2 separate regions of the Homo sapiens genome follow, and region 2 is linked to region 1. The links come from fine-mapping of genetic effects on gene expression. A gene starts in region 1. The other region holds a variant in brackets. All regions are shown on one strand. Distances are between the middles of the regions.

The links. PIP is the estimated chance that this variant, and not a neighbour inherited with it, causes the effect.
Region 2: its variant is fine-mapped to the expression of MAGEA8 in cerebellum (GTEx, PIP 0.98).

What each region holds. Positions count from the first base shown.
Region 1 is chrX:149,878,128-149,883,514 of GRCh38, reverse strand. MAGEA8 (MAGE family member A8) reads right to left here and starts at 2,332. Exons shown (of 3, transcript NM_005364.5): 1 at 2,230-2,332. LINC00850 (long intergenic non-protein coding RNA 850) reads right to left here. Exons shown (of 3, transcript NR_109813.1): 3 at 3,716-4,168. MAGEA8-AS1 (MAGEA8 antisense RNA 1) reads left to right here. Exons shown (of 5, transcript NR_102703.1): 2 at 1,017-1,147; 3 at 3,657-3,714; 4 at 4,157-4,249; 5 at 4,519-4,752.
Region 2 is chrX:149,706,345-149,711,731 of GRCh38, reverse strand. It overlaps a transcript of MAGEA11 not described here. Among named protein-coding and RNA genes, the nearest start is that of MAGEA11, 3.0 kb to the left of the region's middle. The variant C/A (reference allele first, on the strand shown) is at 2,590.

The DNA.
Region 1 (5,387 bases):
GCAATGGGGCCCACGTGTCCTGTCCTAGGGTGAGAAAAAAGCAATAGCTACACAAAATACATTGGGGCCCATGTGTCCTGGGCTGACCTGAGGCCACTTCCTTAATCCAAGGACCTATCTCCAGGAGACACTGGAAGAGCAAATGAGGGGATTCCATCCACCCACCTTTCCCTGCACTTCCCATGGCTGACAGAAGGTGCAGGGTGGGGTTCGGTCCTGTGTGTTTGGTGAGTGGTGTCCTCTGAGTCCCTGACTCCTGGCAGGGCCTTGGACCCCCGCTCTGCTGACCTGAATGCAGTGCCCTCAGACCAAGGCCTTCTTCTCCCTGAGACCAATGAGTCTGGTATAACACAGGGGCCTCAGCTGATAGTCCTGCTCATGCTCTCAGGGGTGACAAAAGAGGCCGGGCAGATTTCTGTTGGGCCCCCATCTGTTTTTTGCCTGCTAGGAGAACCATCGAGGGTACCCTCAATCTTCCCTCAGTGTTGTCACCTAGACTCTTGGTAGATTCTTGGACCACTGAGTCTGTTGCCCACATGGGGGTCCCTGTTTTGTCCTGAGTTGCCCTCTGAGAACAAGGTCCTCACTTCCCTGAGATCTCAAGAGAGAAATGAGGAGCCACCACATCTGATGACCACTGGGTGGGGTGTCCAGGGGTGACACTAGGATCTGTCCCTACTTGTTCTTGAGTGGTGGGTTCTAAGGTCTTCAGGGGGTTATTCATCTTTCCCCTGATGGAGCCCGCCCTTCCTCAACCCACAACACCCTGATATGAGCAGACATCTCCCCTTACCACCAAGACCTTATCTTCCTGCGTTTCCCCAACTTCCTGCCCACAGTACAGATGAGATCTCCACTTAGGGCCACCCTTGATCGGGTTCCCCCAGAGATAATAACCAAAGTTAGCCAGACTTTGTGGGGTCCCTTCTTTCCAGGCCAGGAGTACCCCCATTCATCACAAAGTGAGCACATCTTGGGTCCTGCAGATCCTGTGACCCCGTCCCTCTGTTGAACAGGTGTGGCTCCCTCTGCTGAGCTGAGGACGCCCTTCAGACCCAGGTTGCTACCTCCCTGAGACCCAGGAGGCAGAAGTAAGGAGGCACTACATGGACAACCCTGCATGGGATTCCCACGGCTGACAGAAGTAGTAGGTTTCATGGGGTCTTTCTCTGTCTGGGTGTCATCCAGGTATTCATATTTACTCCACGACAAGGCATGGCCCTTTCCTTCCTGCTGAACCGTGGATGTGTCTTGCATGCCAAGGCCACCATCTCCTTGAGGCCCCCTACCAGAAAGTGGGGGGGCCACATCCCTTCCCCACTGTCCTGCCTTGGGTGCCCAGACCTGAGAGTGGGAGCAGGTTTCCTAGGCCATGATGGGAGGTCTGCTGAGTCCTCCTTAAGGGCTCTGGGGCACCTCTCTCCAGTGATCTGAGACTCCACTCCTCAGACCACAGCTGTCTCCTTTCTGACACCCTGAAAATGCAGCAAGGATGCGCCACATGCAGCCACAGATCCTGGGACTTCCCAAGGCTGAGATCTCCACTGATCTGGAGTCCAAGGACCCCTGAGTCCTCCCTCTTCTTCTTCTCCTTGACTCCTGGCAGGGCTGTTCACCACCCCCCTGCTGACTTGAGTTTCAGTCCCTCGGATTCCTGAGGCCAAATGTGGAGGCCCCTCAGTCTCAGACAGGTAGGGTGGGCCCCCTGTCCTGGGGTCCTGGGTCCCCTCGGGCCTCCTCATCTCCCAGCATAGCCTGGGCCCTCCCTCTGCTCCTCTTGAGTCCGTGCTCATGAAGCCCCTTTGCTGCATCAGCCCCGGATGCGGACGTCAGAATCAGCGAGCCCGGCCGCCATGCCCGGCCGCCATGCCCGGCCGCCATGCCCGGCCGCCATGCCCGGCCGCCATGCCCGGCCGCCATGCCTAGGGCTTCCCAGGGCTGACAGTAGGGGCAGAGATGTGCTCTGTGGAGCCTCAGCCCTCCCTCAGGGTCCTGCCCTTGATGCCTGGCAGAACCTGGGCCCTGCCCTCTGCTAACCAGCCCTGCTCTGGTCACACCAAGCTCTCACTCCAGATTCCCCTGGGGCTTAAGCGCAGGGCTGGCGAGGGGTGGCCCAGCCAGACAAGTCTGCCCCCTGGTGGTCCAGGGCTGGCAGCAGGGGCGGCGCTAGATTATTTTGGGTCCTATATGAGGGGTGGGGGCCTCCTCAGTCCTCCCTCAGGGTCTCACCTTGCCTCCTCACAGACCCTGAGCCCGCTTCCCTCAGCCGATCTCAAGCCGACCCCTCAGAACCAGGCCCTCGCTTCTCTCTGATCCCCGCGGCCACGTCAGTGGCGTCACATCCGTCCACCCAGGGCTCACCTGGGTGGACAACAGGGGCGGAACCGGATTCTAGTGGGGCGGGGGATGAGGGAGGAGCGGTTCAGTCATCCCTCAAGGTTCTCACTTTGAGATCTGGCAGAGCCTGGAGCTCCGTACTCTGCTGATGGTGTCTGCTTCCCTCAGACCAAGGTTCTGATTCCGAGTCCCCTGAGGTGGCAGTGGGGGGAAGGGTGTGGTGGGGGGACAAGGCTGCTGGGGTCTTTCAGGGCTGACATGAGGGTCTGAGCTGAATTATGTGGCCCCTCTATGTGGTGTGGGTGGACCCTCAGTCCTCACTCAGGAGGGTCCTCTTCTTGACTCTTGGCTCTTTTAGGAGATACTCTGTTTCTGTCACCTCTGAGCATTTGCACAGCTGCACCCCTTGCAGAGAATGGCTGCGGGTCCCAGGCCAGATTCTCCCTGTGGGTTTGCAGCACCTAAGATTGTAGTGACCTCTGGGAGAAGAGGCACACCTTCCCACGGGGGCTCTTCCCCAGCTAGAAGAGGATTTTGCAAAACTTTTGTACTAAATGATTTATTTTTACACTGAAGAAACTGAGTAGCTGCAATAAATTTGTGGAAGTCCTGAGTTTTGAAGTTACCTAACAATTCCTATTCCACTTTAGTGATTTTCATAATTTAATTCGCATTCGTATAGTAAGAAACGAATTTTAAATCTATGCCAATTGTATATGTGCATTATATTTATGTTTATATGCATAAACACATATGTATGTATATGTTTATATTATATATGTGTAATTATATGAATGTATGTGTATATATCTTTACATATATTTATACATATATGTATGTCGACTATACGTACTTATTTTATCAAACAATATCTACTCATACAATGTGTGATTCACTCATACTATTCTATTTCTAGTTCATTATATATATTTGATTAAAATAATAGTATTTTGGAAGGTAGTCCTAACCTACTCTTTGTTTCTAGTTGTTATTAGCAGAATTCTGGAGCCATGGTGTCTCAATCAATCCAATTTTCCTGGTGTCCTGATATTACCCCTGGGCTACTGGCTTCGTGTTTTGAGGTGCAGACTCGGATCCTACATTGATGTGGGGTGGTCCTTTAAAACTTTTCCTGCAACTCACCCTGTCGTCTGCAGTGGCTGCAGACCTCCTCAACCTCCCTGCCTCTCCAACTGCCCAGAACACAAGTACCAGTTCAACACAGTTTTTTCCCCAGGGTTTTCTATGTTTTGTTGTTTAGACTTTGTTGCTGATATTGTTGTTTTATTTTTCTTTTTCCCTTCTATATTTTTACACAGTTGATTTTGGGAGTAGAGCACAGCAGCCTGGGCTTGATTGTCACTTTGGCAGCTACAGGTAGGCATTAACTGTTTATTTAATTTAAGTAAGATTTACACCTTTGCTGTATTCTATTCCTCATCAGTGAACATCATATACTACTCCATTTATTTGGGAATTTTTTCTCTGAATCTGTCAGCAAACTTGTACAGTTGCTTCTGTAAATGTCTTGCATATTTTGGTTAGGCTTCTTCTTCTTTATATTTTGGATTTAAATGCTGTTGGGGATGGTATATTTTTCATTTTATGTTCTAAGTTGCTCATCTGTGACAAGTCTCTTGTATTCGCTGCAGTGGTCTTTGTATGCTGTCTTCTGAAGTCTCTTATTCATTTGAATGTTCCATGTGTCTCTTCCTTTGAATTTTCTTGATGGTCATATTGTGAAAAATATGATCTATTTCTTTTCAATCTTCATACCTCTTTTTCATCTTGATATCCATAGCTCTCTTTTTCATTTCAGCATTCACTGCAGCTGTGAACGGTAGCAGTGAAAGCATACATCAATGACTTGCTCCTGACGAGAATGGGAATGCTTCTAACATTTCACATTCAAGTATGTTTCCTGTCAGTTTTAGAAAATTAAAGTGCCTTTTAATCTTCATTTGCTAAAAATGTTAATTTGAAAATATGATAAAATTCATTTCAGAGGCTTTTTCTGTATTTTTATTCCTTGCATACGAGCTGCTTGTTCATTAGTCCACTGTTGTGTTGAATATACAATTATCTATTTAGGACATTTGCTGCAATATGAGTGAACACTTGGCTCATATGTTCTTTTTATAAAGGCTGGATGTCTTTATCTTTTTTTCCCCCCCAATGCAGGAGAAGGAGCCTTGGAGAATTCGTTGAATAATTGCCCGTATTTTGGGATTATTTGGAAGAGTTAATATGGTGATTCGTTTTCCCTGACCACTTGGGGGAACTGACCCACAAAACTGCCTGCCTTAGAACGGTAGAGGGTGGATTGAGCTTTAAATACATTTTCAGTTTGTGGACGTACCATTGGTTTTATCCATTCACCAATTGGAAAAAGTATTGATTGTCAATTTCAAATAAGCTGCTATATATGTTTTTGTGTACGTGATTTTGTGTGTATGAACCTGTTTCCAATTTTCCTTGATAAAACCTAGGAGTACAATTGCTGTGTGTAATGGTAAGTCTAAGTTTTGCTATATTAGAAATAGCCAAAGCCCCTTCTAGAGTGAATGTGTTCTTTTTCTTCTCTACCAGCAATGAAAGAGAATGCCACATCTTTTGTACAATTTGGTATTTTCAGGTTGTTGCATTGTATCAATTGTAACAGGTGGGTAGAAGAATGTTACTGCTGTTTACATTTGTATTTTTATTGAATAATTATGGTAATCATCTTTTCATATGCTTTTTTGTGATCTGTGTATCTTCATTGGTGAAGTCTTGAAATCATTTACTATTTTATTGGACTCTTCATTTTTATGTGGTTGCATGTTATAAGGTGTTTATTCATTCAGTATATGAATCCTTTATCCGACACGGGGTTTACAAGTATTTTCTCCCCATTTTTGGCTTTTTTCCCCATTCCTTTAAGTGTTTTTTTTTTTTTAGTAAACATTTTAGAGTAATTTTAAATTTACAGAAAAGTTGCGAAGACAGTTAAGAGGGTTTTCCTATACATCATGTCCAGTTTCTCCTATTATTAACATCATGCAATAATA
Region 2 (5,387 bases), 170 kb after region 1:
CGGGGGACAACATTGCCAAGGTCTTCCGGGGCTGACAGGAGGGACCGAGCTGGATTCTGTGGCCCCTCTATGTGGGGAGGGTGGACCGTCAGTCCTCACTCAGGAGGGTCCTCCTCTTGGCTACTGGTTCTTTCATGAAGTGATGGGTGGGAGATGCTCTGTTTCTGTCACCTCTGAGCATTGCCCAACTGCACCCCTTGCAGACAATAGCTGCGGATCCCAGGCTAGGTGCTTCCATGTGGCTTCAGTACCCGTGATTGTAGTGACCTCTGGGAGAAGATGCACACCTTCCTACGGGGGCTCCTCCCCAGCCAGATCTAGACTTTGCAAACTTTTGCCCTGAAAGCTTTATTTTTACACTGAAGAGGCTGAGTGGCTGCAAGAAATTTGCGGAAGTCCTGCGTTTAGAATTTATCTAACACTTCATAGTTCATTTTAGTGATTTTCATTTTTTAATTCTCATTCAGTGTCAAAAATCATACTTAACCTAACTGCCTATTTCACTCTAATGGTCAATACTCTAATTTAATCCATTCTTTATCTTCAATTAAAACGATAATTTTTAAAAAGCCAATCTTTATTTACTGACGTGGTTTTAGTGGTTATCAGCACAAATTCCAGCCGTATTCCTTTAATCAACCAGTGTTTCCTCATGTCCTGAAGTTACCCCATGACTACTGGCACCTGTGGTCTGAGACCCTACCCGAGTTTTCCACAGTGAAGTAGGGGCAGAATTTTAAACATTTCTTTCTTCCTATCCACCCCAACTTCCCTGCCACTCTTCCCCGCCAATCACAAGTATTCCTTCAAAATACAATGAAATTCTCAGGGCTCTCTCATGTTTTTTTTGTTTAGATTTCTTTTTTGATATTGTTTGCTTGTTCCTTTATTTATTTATTTTTATTCTTTAGTTTTCCCGGGTTGTTTTGGGGAGTCTAAGATAGAAGCCCAAGACTGAACGCGGTGGTTCACACCTGTAATCCAAACACTTTGGTAGGCCAAGGCAGGAGGATCACTTGAGCCCAGTAGCTCAAGATTAATCTGAACTACATAACAAGACCCCATCTCAAAAAAAAAAGAAAGAAAGAAAAAGAAAAAGAAAAAAGAAATGAAAAATTAGCTGGGTGTGGTGGCGTGTGACTGCAGTCCCAGCTGGTAGGGAGGCTAAGGTGGGAGGATCACTGGAGCCCAGGATGTCAGTGCTGCAGTGAGCTGTGTTCACACCACTGCACTCCAGCCTTGGAAATAGAGTGAGGTCCTGTCTCAAAAAAACAAAACCAAACCAAACAATCAAAAACCAACAGATGCCTGAGCTTGACAGTCATCTTGGCTGGTTAAGGAATTACGTCTGTCAATTTTTGAAAAAATAGAATTGCCATCTTTGCAATATTCTGTTCCCTATCAATGATATCATATACTGCCTTGTTTATTTGGGTGCTCTTTGAACTGGATATATCAGTACTTGTATAGTTGCCTCAGTAAAAATCATACATGCTTTTGTTAGTCTTCTTGTTAGGTAATTTTTGGATATTGTTGCTATTGTGAATGGGGTATTTTCTATGACCTGTTCTTAATAGTTATTGTCTGTTTTGCAAATCTTTTGATTTTGCTTTATTGATCTTCTGTTCGCTATTTTTCACACGTCTCTTATTCATTTGACTATTTCAAGTGTGCATTTTTTTGAATTTTCTAGATAGACTGTTGCATTACCCTACCAAATATCACTCTTTCTTTCCAATACACATACCTCTTATTTATTTTGGTATCCATATCTGTGGCTTTGTATTCCAATACAACTTTGAAAAATAGCAATGATAGCATACATTTATGACCTGTGCCTGACATGAATGCGTCCAACATTTTACAATTAAGTATATTTGCTATCAATTTGATGAAACAAAATTTCCTTCTACTCTTAATTTTCTAGTTATTTTTATCATGGATGATTACTAATTTTTTCAAAATATTTTTCTGTATCCATTAATATGATCATATGTTTTGCCTCTATAATCTTGTTAATATAGGGAATCACACTGAAGGTATATTTTAATGTCAAATTGTATTTTCATTCTTTGGATATATCCCGTTTTTCCATTTAGTACACTGCCCTAATGAATTGGCTATTAATTTATTTAGGATATTTGTTGCTATGTGAGTAACTTTGGTTTAAGTGTTCTTTTCATGGTGAGGTCCTCTTCTGGTATTTGAAACAAAGAACACTAGTCTCAGAAAATGAGTTCCACAGTTGCCCATCTTTTTGTATGGTTTTTAAGAGTTTGCTTAGGATGGCAATGAGTTCTAATTATTTGGTAAAACTGGCCTCTGAAACTTTCTTTTCCTGGATCATTTGTGGGTGGCTTGAACTGAGAATACAGTTTTAGTTTGTAATGTTTGATTAAAGTTTTCTGTTTCTTTATGGACCAATTTGATCTTTTTTTTTTTTTTTCGAGACAGAGTCTCGCTCAGTCGCCCAGGCTGGAGTGCAATGGCACAATCTCAGCTCACTGCAACCTCCTCCTCCCAGGTTCAAGCAATTCTCCTGCCTCAGCCTCCTGAGTAGCTAGGATTTCAGGTGTGCGCTACCACACC[C/A]GGCTAATTTTTGTATTTTTAGTAGAGACGGGGTTTCACCATATTGTCCAGACGGGTCTCGAACTCCTGACCTCGTGATCCACCTGTCTCGGCCTTCCAAAGTGCTGGGATTGCAGGCGTGAGCCACTGCGCCGGGCCATTTTTTTTTTTTTATAAAATATAGTTCATTTCACTTAGGATTTCAAATTTAATGGCATGATATTATGATGAAATAACTTTATTAAAGTGTCAGACATGTAAAATAGTATAGTATAATATACCCAATATACTTGATATTCAGCATCAAAAATCTTCAATCCATTACTAATCTGTTTCCAACTATACTTCTACCTACCCCACGTCTCAAATGCTGGAATAATGTAAACCAACTCAGTAACCTTGGATAGAATACTGGATCCAATAAGCCAGTTCATGGTACAGTGCAGCTGACCTGGCTCTGAGACAGCCTATGGCTCAGAGAAAAGGGTCTGGCTTCAATAGACCAGCCTCCCTAGACCCCTACCTCCTACTCTCTGTTCCAGGGTCCTGAGGTACTGCACGCCTTTGTTCTCTTCTAGACACATGCTCCTATAATACTGCTAGCTAATACTGCTTTCCAGACACCCTTGGGTCTCTCTCCAAATATCTTCTCTGTGAGGCCTTCTATGAATAACCTTTCTTTTTCTTCATAGAATTTGTGTCTTTATTATTTATTTTTGTAATTTCACTTTCATTTTAGATTCAGGGGGTACGTGTGCAACTTTGTTACATGGGTATATTGTGAGATGCTGAGATTTGTGATATTATTGATCCCGTCACTCAAGTAGTGAGCATAGTACCCAATAGTTGGATCCTGACCTTTCATCATATACAAAAATTAATTCGACATGGATTAAAGATTGAAATGTAAGACCTCAAACTACAAGAATCCTAGAAGAAAACCTAGGAAACACCATTCTGGATATCACCCTCGGGAAATAATTTATGACTATGTTCTCAAAAGCTATTGCAACTAAAACAAAAATTGACAAGTTAACCTAATTAAACTCAAAAGCTTCTGCTCAGCAAAAGAAACTATCCACAGAGTAAGCAGACAACCTGCAGAATGGAAGAAAATATTCCCCAACTACGCATCTGACAAAGGTCTAATATTCAGAATCTATAAGGTGCTTAAACAATTGAACAAACAAAAACAAATAACCTCATTAAAAAGTGAATACCCTTTCTAAAATTGCAATCCTCCCTCTTAACTCATCCCAAACACTTATTCAGTTCTCTAGATTCAATTTGTTTCCATAGTATTTATCACCATGTCAACCAAAATTAAGACTGGTTAGGCAAAAATAAGAGGATAAATGTTTATTGGAAGCCAAATGTGAGGACTGACCTGGGAGGAGAAACCAACAAAGTTGGGAGTGTTCTGGAGAGTCTTACAAGTTGGAAGGGTTTTATGAGAGTTTAGAACAAGAGAGAACTTTTTATATGGCAGTTGTCGTTTTTTATTAGAGGATACAATACGGAGGTTAGAATCATTGTACCAAATTGCAACATACAGACTAAAATGTCCATGTGCAAAACAACCAGTAAAATTTCATGATTTAAAAATAAATCAGCAAACTTTTCAATGTTGGTACATTACATATTAATCCATATGTAAACAATTTGTGGAATGCAGGATAAGACACTTTACTGAGGGACAGGATGGCAACAGAAATCACAAGACCTCCCCCAGGTGAGTTCATTTGGAAGCCTACCAAAGGTGATTTGGAAGTTAACCATTAAATCTACTGCACCTTTAAGTTTGTTTCATGATTTATTGTGTGCCTACCCTTTACCTCACTAGAATGTAAGTTCCACCTAGGGAGGAAATGTGTTCAATATTGTATCCTCAGAGCCCAGGACAGTGCCTGGCACACAATACATGCTCAGTATTCATTTATGGAATGAATAAAGAACTGCCAGTTCTATGGTCCTAGTATTTGGAGCTTCTCTGGTACTAAAGTCTCATGGAATTTTCAATCTTTCCAAACACCCAACAGCCAAAGTTTGAATGCTCCCACTATCTTCTAATTGTTGGCTCCTGGACCAGGTAAGCATCTGAGTTTTAAAGGGACTCCAAAGGCCTGCTTTCCCAGCTTCTGGTTTGTGCTCCTCACATCCTGGGTAAGTGAGCATGGCAGGGCTCTAGCCACCCAGGGCTATCTGAACACTCTCTCTTGTCAGGAGGCAGCTGTGACCTTTCCCTGATGCCCTGTTTCTTTTTCCATCTTGTTTGGATATGCAAGTTAACACAGTAGTCCTTGCAAGGTGGAATCTAACAGCCTAATTGTACCTGTTGGGATTTGGGGTTTCCTTCTCCTGAGGCCCATCTCTGAGCCCCCATCACCTTGGCTGCAGTGCCCACACTTGCCCACAGTCTCCCGTATCTGACTTCAGTCTTCCCAACTGGGGCTTGGAATTGCAGCTCTCCAATACAACTACTCAAGACTCAGTGCTGAGGCTTATGAACAGTTAAACTTTTATTTAAAATTCTCTACTTAGAAATCCCCTTCCAAAGTATTATGGTTCAGATAGAACTGGCAGAAGATGAGGTAGCCATTTGGTGAGTTTCCTAGGGGTTGGTAAATAATAAAAGAATGCTGTGTGAATGAGTGACAAATCACTATAATGATGACTTACTTTTCAAATGATCCCCTATGTAATGCCCACACATTAATTAAACTAATCACCTCGTTAAGGCGCCTATGAGTTTTTGCTTTCTAAACTTGATCCAGAGAGGTGATGCCGAACTGTTTTGTCAGCTACCCAAAGAGCCATCT